Linked DNA regions of Homo sapiens. The protein of the gene in region 2 purifies or fractionates together with the protein of the main gene of each other region. This does not show direct contact. Each region holds a gene or a part of one and is shown on either strand. Other genes may lie near its edges.

The links.
Region 1: the proteins of SCGB2A1 (region 2) and SLC27A2 purify together in Homo sapiens (co-immunoprecipitation; 2 studies listed by BioGRID and IntAct, with this or other methods). This does not show direct contact.

The regions. Positions count from the first base shown.
Region 1 is NC_000015.10:50,177,864-50,185,228, forward strand, and holds the start of SLC27A2 (long-chain fatty acid transport protein 2), read left to right. Parts: upstream 1-4,332; 5' UTR 4,333-4,564; coding exon 4,565-5,042; intron 5,043-7,365. UniProt on the Homo sapiens protein: Mediates the import of long-chain fatty acids (LCFA) into the cell by facilitating their transport across cell membranes, playing an important role in hepatic fatty acid uptake.
Region 2 is NC_000011.10:62,211,641-62,214,447, reverse strand, and holds the end of SCGB2A1 (mammaglobin-B precursor), read right to left. Parts: intron 723-2,807; coding exon 678-722; 3' UTR 505-677; downstream 1-504. UniProt on the Homo sapiens protein: May bind androgens and other steroids, may also bind estramustine, a chemotherapeutic agent used for prostate cancer. May be under transcriptional regulation of steroid hormones.

The DNA of each region.
Region 1 (7,365 bases), on a different chromosome or scaffold from region 2:
ACTACTTCATCTCCATAAAGTAGGAAGGGACGCCACCTGCTTTAAAAGAACATTTGAGATTGGGATTGGAAACTTTGAAGGGGGTAGGGAAGGTCTGGGACTGCCAATAGGAAGCCTTCTCTCAAATAGCAGAGATAGATGATAGGGATGAACGTCCTGACCAAGGCTAGAAGGTGTCAGTATGCACACCCAGTAATCCTGTCTTGCCCCTAAACTTCTCCTGCAATACCTAGAATAGGACAGAAGACAGTGGGCATTTGAGGTCATCTATACCTGGATAGAAAGTTTAAGGAAAAGAGGGGTCTAGGAGGCCACGTTGAAGTGACTGGCCAGGAAGGGACCGAAATCTTGATAGAGGAAATGAATAGGCTCAGTAATGTCAGAGAATGGGAGAAGTGGAATGAGGAGGCTTAACTAAGCCTATGGGGACGGAGAATCTCCATGTCTGAGATCTCAGTGCTGACAAAATCCTAAATTACATCAAAGTCCAAGATCTGGCTCTATTTCATATTTCCCTGTGGAATTTATGTTACTGAATAGACAAACTTGTATAAAAACAATTTCTATATGGTATAAAAACCCAGACAAAAGTTGCAGTTTTCTACATTCAAAAATATTTTTAATGTTTTTATTTTTATCTGTTTGTGAGAATTTGTAAGATTATTTTGTTTTGTTTTTCATATGAGATGGGGTCTCACTGTGTTGCCCAGTCCAGTCTTGAACTCCTGGCCTCAAGTGATCCTCCTGCCTCAGTCTCCCGAGTAGCTGGAATTACAGGTGCATGCCCCCACACTTGGATAATTTCTGTACTTTTTATGTGTTGGTGTAACATTGTCTTCGTCTTTTCTTGGAAAGGGCTATATGTTTATTGTTACTGTCTTTAAAATTGTGGTAAAATATGCATAACATAAAAATTAACTATTTTAACCATTTTTAAGTGTACAGTTCAGGTATACTTTTTTAGTGCCAAAAATGTCATTCTTCTATAAAATAACAAATATACTGTGATGGGGGAGGGGGTTGTTCTTACTAGAAAAATTAAGAAGTCGTTACTTATTTTGAGTCCCTAACTTGGTTTCGAAATATAACACGGGACTAAGAAATTCAGGAATCAAACAACTACTGCCCTAAAGGAGAGTTGAGATTTACAGGGTTAGGATGGTCAGGGGTGGAAAGTGGTAAGAACAAGCCAGTAGAAAGAGGAAGGTGCAGGGCATTTTTAGGAGTGTGCAGACCAGACTTGCTAAAAACAAAGTGCGCTTGAAAAGGAACAGTTAGAATTAAGTTTTGGTCCATTTTAAAATATTTAATACCTAATAATGTTTGGTTCATAGCAGAAACTCAATAAATATTTGTCAATTGAGTGTAGTGAAAGCTTGAGTGAGATTCAGAAGAGCCAGAAAATAAAGTTTAAATTTCATTTTATAGACCAGAGGTTCCCAAGAGATGTACCAAGAATGGGCAGCCAACGTGCTAAGCTATCGATCACCTTTCAAAGGAGTCAGGCAGAAGCCAGGGCATCTGGTCAACTCTAGGCCAGGTATGTTCTAGTATGCTGTACAAGTACAACTGTCTATAGATGTCATTGGTGGAAGACAATAGGAAGCAATGGGGAACCACTAAAGATAATTGAGCAGTGGAGATATAAGATGGCAGCAATATTTCCAGGAAGACTATTGCTGTGGTTTTAATGTTCATGTCCCCTACAAAATTCATATATTGAAATCCTAACCCTCAATGTGATGGTATTAGGAGGTAGAGCCTTTGGGGAGTAATTTGATCATAGGGCAGAGCCCTCATGAATGGGATTAGTGCCCTCATAAAACAGGCCCCAGAGAGGTAATTTGTCCCTTCTACCAAACAGTACACAGTGAGAAGGCACCATCTGTGAGAAAGTAGCCCTTCACCAAACACCACATCTGCTGGCACCTTGATCTTAGACTTGCCTCCAGAAGTCTGAGAAATAAATTTCTGTTGTTTATAAACTACCCAGCTTACAGTATTTTGTTATAGCAGCCCAAACAGACTAAGACATCTATTAACCTCGTGATAAAGCAAGAGCTGGATCCCAGGCTCAAAGCTGGAATCACTGGGACTCCCAAGGTATATATTATAGACATTTGAAAATTACTTCCCCAAATTTACTCTCCCTAACCCCACTTTTTAATAATACCGTAAAACGTTCCACAAAATGGCCTAGGTGAAATTGATTATACTCTCACCCCCATGGGTGAGCGCTGATTGGCTTAAAACAACTAGCACCTTTTTCCCCAGGACCCACAGACATTGGTTCAGAAATGGGCGCATAATCCAGTCAGGGATTTTTTTTTTTATGAGAACTCCTAAGAAAAAGATTCCTGTACTTCTCTCTGAAGTTGAGCCAGAAAGCATGTACCCCTAAGGGCTGTTGGCAGCCATCTTTGGACAAAAACCAGAGAGCCTGAATGAGAACAGAGGAGGTGCAGAGGAGAAATAGTGAAAGCAAAACTAGATCCAGGTGTCAGCATTTAAAATCCTTGATGTCTTAGCCCCGGACTCTCCAGTTACTACTTAAATTCCTGTTTCTGCTTCAGCTAGCTTGGGTCTTGTTTTCTTTTACTTGTAACTGAGGTTAAAGTGATCCTCAGAATAAGAGGGGAAAAAGTGGACCCTTGTGGTAATCTAGCACTCTGGGTAGACAGTAGCTGTTCAAGGAAAAGAGAAGAGGGGTGCAGGTGGCTACACAGAAGCGATTAGCCATCAAGGGACGAGGGTGGCATTGGGATGAAAAAGGAAGGGCTGGCTCTGAGCTTCACCATGAAAGAAGTGCACATGAGAATGGTTTCTGTCGGGCCCTCACTTTGGTTAATTCTACTGCTTTCTCCTCAGGGATGATGAAGGCCCCCAGCTCATCCCCAGGGAAATGATGCAACCAGGTAGCTGGATCAGAAATGAAAAAGTCAGGAAAAGGGAAAGGTTGCTTGCGCAGTTACTAGGGATACGAAAAGGAGGCTAAAAAACGGCAGGGGGTGGCCTGGAGGGAATGTGAAACATTTTTGTGTGTTTTACACACACCGAAAAAAAAAGAGGACATGGACAGAAACCTAGAGAATAGGAGGACAGCATAGTATAGTTACTAAGAATAAGCTAAGAGTTGGTTCCCCGGGACCAAACAGATACCATTTCCAAAACCCACGAATTACTTACCGGCTGTCTCAATTCACCTAAGCTTCCCTTTCTTGTCTGTAAATGAGCATGAAAGTGCCACCTGTATAAAATAACTCAGGCTCCCAAAATGTAACATAGGGAAGCTCCTAGCAGCGTGTCTGGGAGGAATAAGCATTATCTGTATTTATCGTATCAAATTAAGATAGAGGAACACAGGAGGACAGTAGAGGATGAAAATAAAACACTACTTAGATCCTGACCCTCCTCAGTGGCAAGTAGTGAGCATTCACTTCGTACAGAAGTAGCACTAAGGCAAATTAAAAGAAAGGTTCACATTTCCTCTAAAAGAAATGGTTTTTGAGTCATGCCAATACCACTTACTCAATGTCCTCTGTACTATACTATTCTCTGACAGAGCCACTTATTAAATGTGTGAACTGTGCTGACAACACTTGACAACTTTCAACATGAGGGAACAGCAGGATCACTTAACAGAACAAAATCGTAAAATAATGTCAAAGCTTGATTTCAGGTGGTGCGGTGTAGCACTGCTCTTCACGAAATCAGGACTCCCCCGACCAGGCAGGGCCGACTAGGTTAGAGTGTCCTGCCCTCACTCACCTGGCAGGGCTTGGGATGAGCTGGACGTGACTGCCACAGGCATTTCTGTTCAACCTTGAAGCCTTCGCTACAGGAGACCGCCTGGCAGTCGGGCTGGGAAGCAAATCTGAGAAACAAAGAGAGACCAGGCGGAAAGCCCTTGGGACCAGGAAGGAGAGATGAGATTCTGGTTTGGCAGTGGCACCTGGTACCCGCTATTAATAAATAATAGGACTGTCTGACATTTATAAGGCACTTTATCGGTAATAACAGTGTCATCTCCATAAGCCATTCTATTAGTGGTAACAAATAATAGCCCCACGCCTGCAATATCTCCTTTAATATTCCCAACGTCCGCTAAGCGCGTCTCATCACCATTTAAAGAAACCGTGGCTCCTAGAGGTAAAGTACTTCGGTCACAACGCGAGGAGGTCCAGACTTGACCCCAGACCTCCAGACTCGAGCTGGGAAGTGGCCGAGGCTCCTGGTGAGCCGCAGGGCAGCCTGCCCAGCCCCGGGAGGACCGCGTGGGAGGGCCGGGAGAGCAGGTGGCTGCCCCCCACAAGGGGGCGGGCTCAGCCGGCCAGTCCTGCCCGGAACCCCCGGCAACGCGCATACGACTACACCTGCTCCGGAGCCCGCGGCGGTACCTGCAGCGGAGGAGCTCTGTCTTCCCCTTCATCTCACGCGAGCCCGGCGTCCCGCCGCGTGCGCCCCGGCGCAGCCCGCCAGTCCGCCCGGAGCCCGCCCAGTCGCCGCGCTGCACGCCCGGGGTGAACCCTCTGCCCTCGCTGGGACAGAGGGCCCCGCAGCCGTCATGCTTTCCGCCATCTACACAGTCCTGGCGGGACTGCTGTTCCTGCCGCTCCTGGTGAACCTCTGCTGCCCATACTTCTTCCAGGACATAGGCTACTTCTTGAAGGTGGCCGCCGTGGGCCGGAGGGTGCGCAGCTACGGGAAGCGGCGGCCGGCGCGCACCATCCTGCGGGCGTTCCTGGAGAAAGCGCGCCAGACGCCACACAAGCCTTTTCTGCTCTTCCGCGACGAGACTCTCACCTACGCGCAGGTGGACCGGCGCAGCAATCAAGTGGCCCGGGCGCTGCACGACCACCTCGGCCTGCGCCAGGGAGACTGCGTGGCGCTCCTTATGGGTAACGAGCCGGCCTACGTGTGGCTGTGGCTGGGGCTGGTGAAGCTGGGCTGTGCCATGGCGTGCCTCAATTACAACATCCGCGCGAAGTCCCTGCTGCACTGCTTCCAGTGCTGCGGGGCGAAGGTGCTGCTGGTGTCGCCAGGTGAGCCCCGAGGATCGCCCTGCCCTGGCACCAGGGCTTCTCGGCGCCTTGACTGACGAGCCACAGCGTGGCATAAGGGGTTCGCAGAGGGAGGTTCAGATCGGAACTGTAGGTATAGAAAAAGGTTGGCAGTGTTTCCTTGAATCGCAAATAATGATCTTTTAGGACCACCTGTTGTGGAAGCTGATAATGTGCTAGGTTCTGTGTTAAGCACTCTACAGGCAGTGTGGTTTTTAATCCTCACAATGGGTAGGCTTTGTTATAGGACTTTTATAGATGAGACCACTGAGGTCCTGAGAGGTGAAGCCTCATGCCCAGCCATCTATCTCCAAATTCCAAGCTCTTAATCAATACTTATAACATCTGCATTAAAATGCAGAGGATCTTGAGTGCGAACTCTAGTGGATCCAGAGGGGCTCTTCTCACCTCTGCTGCTTGACTGGCTGTGTGATCATGGGAAAGTCACTTCTCCTCTCTGTCCCTTGGTTTGCTCCTCTCTAATGAGGCAGGCTTCAATGTTGCTTCCAGCTCTCAACTGCTGTTAGCATCCTGTCCCCTCCCTGCAGAACAAAGGTGACCCCACCTGATCCCCAGGGAGAAGATACTGGGGATCTGCTACAGGACCGTTGTGAGCCCCCACTGCATCTATCACAATAGTGACCCTTTCAGTTCTGTGGTTAGCTCCTGCCACATTTCAGCCAGACTTGAAACAGTAACTTAAGTGATGACAAGGTCAGGAAGTGACAGAGAACCTGTTACTCACAGGGCTGATGGCTTTCCCCTCCCAGAGAGCTTGTCTCTGCACTTGAATAAGGACCAAGGGTTCCTTCTCTCAGTCAGTAAGAAGAGGCCTACACAGGAGTGGGCTGAAAGACCTGGGTGACAGGGTAGGGGTCGAGGGAGCCGAGGAGCCTCAGCTTTCTAGAATGCATTTCTGTGCTAAGCCCTATAGTAGATGCTTTTATTACCCCGGGAGATAACATATCACTATCCCCACCACCACCACCACCATTATACAGTTGAGAAAACTGAGGCTTAAAATTCCAACCTAGCTCTATCCAACTTCGAAGCCATGCTCTTTCCTACATCTTTTTTTTTTTTTTTTTTGACAGTCTCGTTCTGTTGCCCAGGCTGGAGTGCAGTGGCGCTATTTCAGTTCACTGTAACCTCTGCCTCCCAGGCTCAAGCGATCCTCCCAGCTCAGCCTCTCAAGTAGCTGGGACCACAGGCATGCACCACCATGCCCAGCTAATTTTTTGTTATTTTTGGTAGAAACAGGGTTTCACCATGTTGCCCAGGCTGGTCTCAAACTCCTGAGATCAAGCGATCCACCCACCTTGGCCTCGCAAAGTGCTGGGATTACAGGTGTGAGCCACCACACCCAGCCTCTTTCCTACATCTTATTGTTTTCCTCTGCATGGATGTAAACTGTTAAGTGTGCTGGAAGGGATGAAGTGTCCACTTGCTCTACCCCTTCATTTCATAGCTGGGGAAACTGAGGCAAGCTAAGCGGGTTACAGAAAGATGAAAGGTTAATTCACTTGTGAGAAACCAGGAATCTTACACACCTGCTTCATGTGGCATGAAATAAATAATCCAAAAAATATAGGCTTTGTATAAAAGTTTAAAAGCAGAAAGCCAAATTTTAGGCTGGGCGCAGTGGCTCAAGCCTGTAATCCCAGCACTTTGGGAGGCCGAGGCAGGTGGATCACTTGAGGTTAGGAGTTCAAGACTAGCCTGGCCAACATAGCAAAAACCCCGTCTCGACTAAAAAAAAAAAAATTAGCTGGGCATGGTGGCGCGTGCCTGTAATCCCAACTACCTGGGAGGCTGAGGCAGGAGAATCACCTGAACCCAGGAGGCAGAGGTTTCAGTGAGCCGAGATCATGCCACTGCACTCCAGCCTGGGGGACAGAGTGAGACTCCATCTCAAAAAACAGAATAAAAAAAAGACAAGTTTAAAGGTGGCTAAATTATTTGGAAGAGATGGTCCTTTCAAGAAAATTCCCATTAATTTCTAGCTGCCTGAGAAAAGCGATAACTTCACTACTTTGTAACTAGAAGACTCTCCTAAGCCTATTACTTTACCAGCTTGCTTGGAGGGAAATTATTAACACAGTGATCTTTGTACCACTTCAGGAAGCATTTAAATTCTGTTTATCACTTTAGTATCCCAGGTCCCCTGAGAGGGAGGTCACAGGGTTTGGAGTTTTGTTGACAAAGAAGTTCAGGATTAAATGACCATAATACAGTTTGATTCTGCAATAAAGTCAGAATTACAACCAGATACCCTCTTCCCACCCAGCTAACAGTTGTCTGCCAT
Region 2 (2,807 bases):
AAAGTTCAAAATTAATGCCAACATCCATGAACGACAAATAAAACTCAAAATTTAAAATCCAGACAGGATCCACCTTGCTTTGCAGGCCTCCCCTCCCTGGCTGGCTCTGGTCTGGGCCCTGCACACGTTGGGGAGGCCCAAAGACAACCCAGAGGAGCCTGGCATAACCAGCAGGGCTCAGCATGGATGGGACTGGGGTAAAATCAGGGCTTCTGAGCATGACTCCAAGAGTGTGAGGTCCCCAGAGAAAGTGGCTTAGGGAGGTAGTGGGATGTGGAGAGTGAAACACTCTTCAGAGAAAAATTAGCTAAGCAACAAGAGCTAATACTTTGTTCTGCAGAGAGAGAGAAGTCCAACTCTTGGGCTCGAGATGATGAGAAATAAAGTATTTCCCAGAAACCTCGGACCCTCACTCAACTCCTTCGAGGCTTGTCTCTGTCTGCAACCTACAGCCTGACTGTGCAGCCTGGAAAGCTTCTTTTTTTATAGAAGAACAAGAAAGAATTTTAGTGATTTGCAGTTAGTTTATTGAAATGGAAATGAATTTGAGGTTTCAACAGTTGTCTAGCAGTTTCCACATAAAAAGACAACACAAGAAAGAAAAGTGGTTTCTAGCAATCAACAGATGAGTTCTGGCCATAGTCTGTAGCCCTCTGAGCCAAACGCCTTGGGTAAAGTTAATTACTCTTCATATTACACCAAATGCTGTCGTACACTGTATGCTGGAAAACAAAAGCAGGTCACTTAGGTTTGCAAATTTCACTTATTAAATCAAATATTAAAACTTGTCTTCTTGTTTTCTTGCATTTGTCCACAAACAGCTAACTCTCAGGAGGATTTGCAGTGGAAGCAAAGCCAGCATCCCCTCTCCATTTATTCTGTTATCTAGGAGACACTTCATAATGCCAAACAGGGGCCAGGGTTGTAGGATCTCTTCCCTACCAGTGATCCATGTAATACTTTTTTTCTCCAAAAATTCTATCCTTTGAAATAACTTATCCAATAAATATGCTGCATATACTATTTGTTGAAGACCTGATCATTTGGACTGTTTCTGATACCACTTTTACAACACAGAATTATTAAAAAATCTCAGCTCAGATACAAGAATGTGATGGTTTTGAGTTGCTGCACAGGCATAAAAGGTAGAAATGTTGTAACAGTCTGAGACTCTTCACCATTACCTTTGAGGCCTATGAAATATTGGAGCTGGGCTGGGTGGGATGGCTCATGCCTGTAATCCCAGCACTTTGGGAAGCCAAGGAGGGCAGATTGCTTGACCCCAGGAGTTTAAACCAGCCTGGACAATATGACAAAATGCCATCTCTACAAAAAAAAAAATATATATATATATATGTGTATATATGTGTATATATGTATATATGTGTATATATGTGTATATATGTATATATGTGTGTATATATGTATATATGTGCATATATGTGTACATATATGCATGTATATGTGCACATATATGTGTACATATGTGTACATATGTGTGTACATATGTGTGTATATATGTGTGTGTGTATATATATGTATATATATGCCAGGTGTGTTAGTGTGCACCTGTAGTCGCAGCTACTCAGGAGGCTGAAGCGGGAGGATCACTTGAGCCCAGGAGATGGAGGCTGCAGTGAGCTGTGATTGTACCACTGCATTCCAGCCTGGGCAAAAGAGCAAGACTCTGTCTCAAAAACAAAAACAAAGACAAAAAAACGGAAACAAGAAACACTGGAGTTTTACAATATGAATGATTAATCTGAGGGGTTTTTTTGGTTTGTTTAGGATTTTTGTTTGTTTGTTTGTTTTTGAGATGGAGTCTTACTCTGTTGCCCAGGCTGGAGTGCGGTGGCACTATCTTGGCTCACTGCAATCTCTGCCTCCTGGCTTCAAGTAATTCTTCTGCCTCAGCCACCCAAGCAGCTGGAATTACAGGTGTGCGCCACCACGCCTAGCTAATTTTTGTATTTTTAGTAGAGACAGGGTTTCAGCATGTTGGCCAGGCTGGTCTTGAACTCCTGACCTCAAGTGATCTGCCCGCCTTGGCCTCCTAAAGTGCTGGGATTACAGGTATGAGGGATGCACCTGGCTAATCTGAGTTTTTAAAGAAAAAAATGATTCAACCATCCCAAATTGCAGTTAATATTTATTTTTATCCTTGAGCATTTGATATATCTTTACATTTTTTATTATGGAATGTTTTAAATAAAATTTTAGGGTATTAAATAAATTCTTAAAAAAAAAATGTAATCCCAGCACTTTGGGAGGCTGAAGCGGGCAGATCACCTGAGGTCAGGAGTTTGAGACCAGCCTGGCCAACATGGTGAAACCCCATCTCTACTTAAAATACAAAAATTAGCAGGCTGTGGTGTTGTGTGCCAGTAATTCCAGCTACTCCGAAGACTGAGGCAGGAGAATCACTTGAACTCAGGAGCCGGAGATTGTAGTGAGCCGAGATCGTGCCATTGCACTCCAGCCTGAGCAACAAGAGCTAAACTCCATCTCGAAAAAAACGAAAAACAAAAAACAAAACTCGTAACCAACACATCTTTATAAACAGACAGAAATACTCCTTGTTATAACCACTGACTTTTGTTTTAAACAATTCTAGCACTCGTGCTGTTTCATACCCATAATCTGCACTTCCCACTTCATGAGGCACTTAATTAAGTGGTGCATGACTTCCAGTCATGTATGCTAACAAATCTTGGTTGCTTGGACTTGCATTTTAAATTCTTTATTTTAGGCCGGGAGCAGTGGCTCACACCTGTAATCCCAGCACTTTGGGAGGCCGAGGCGGGCAG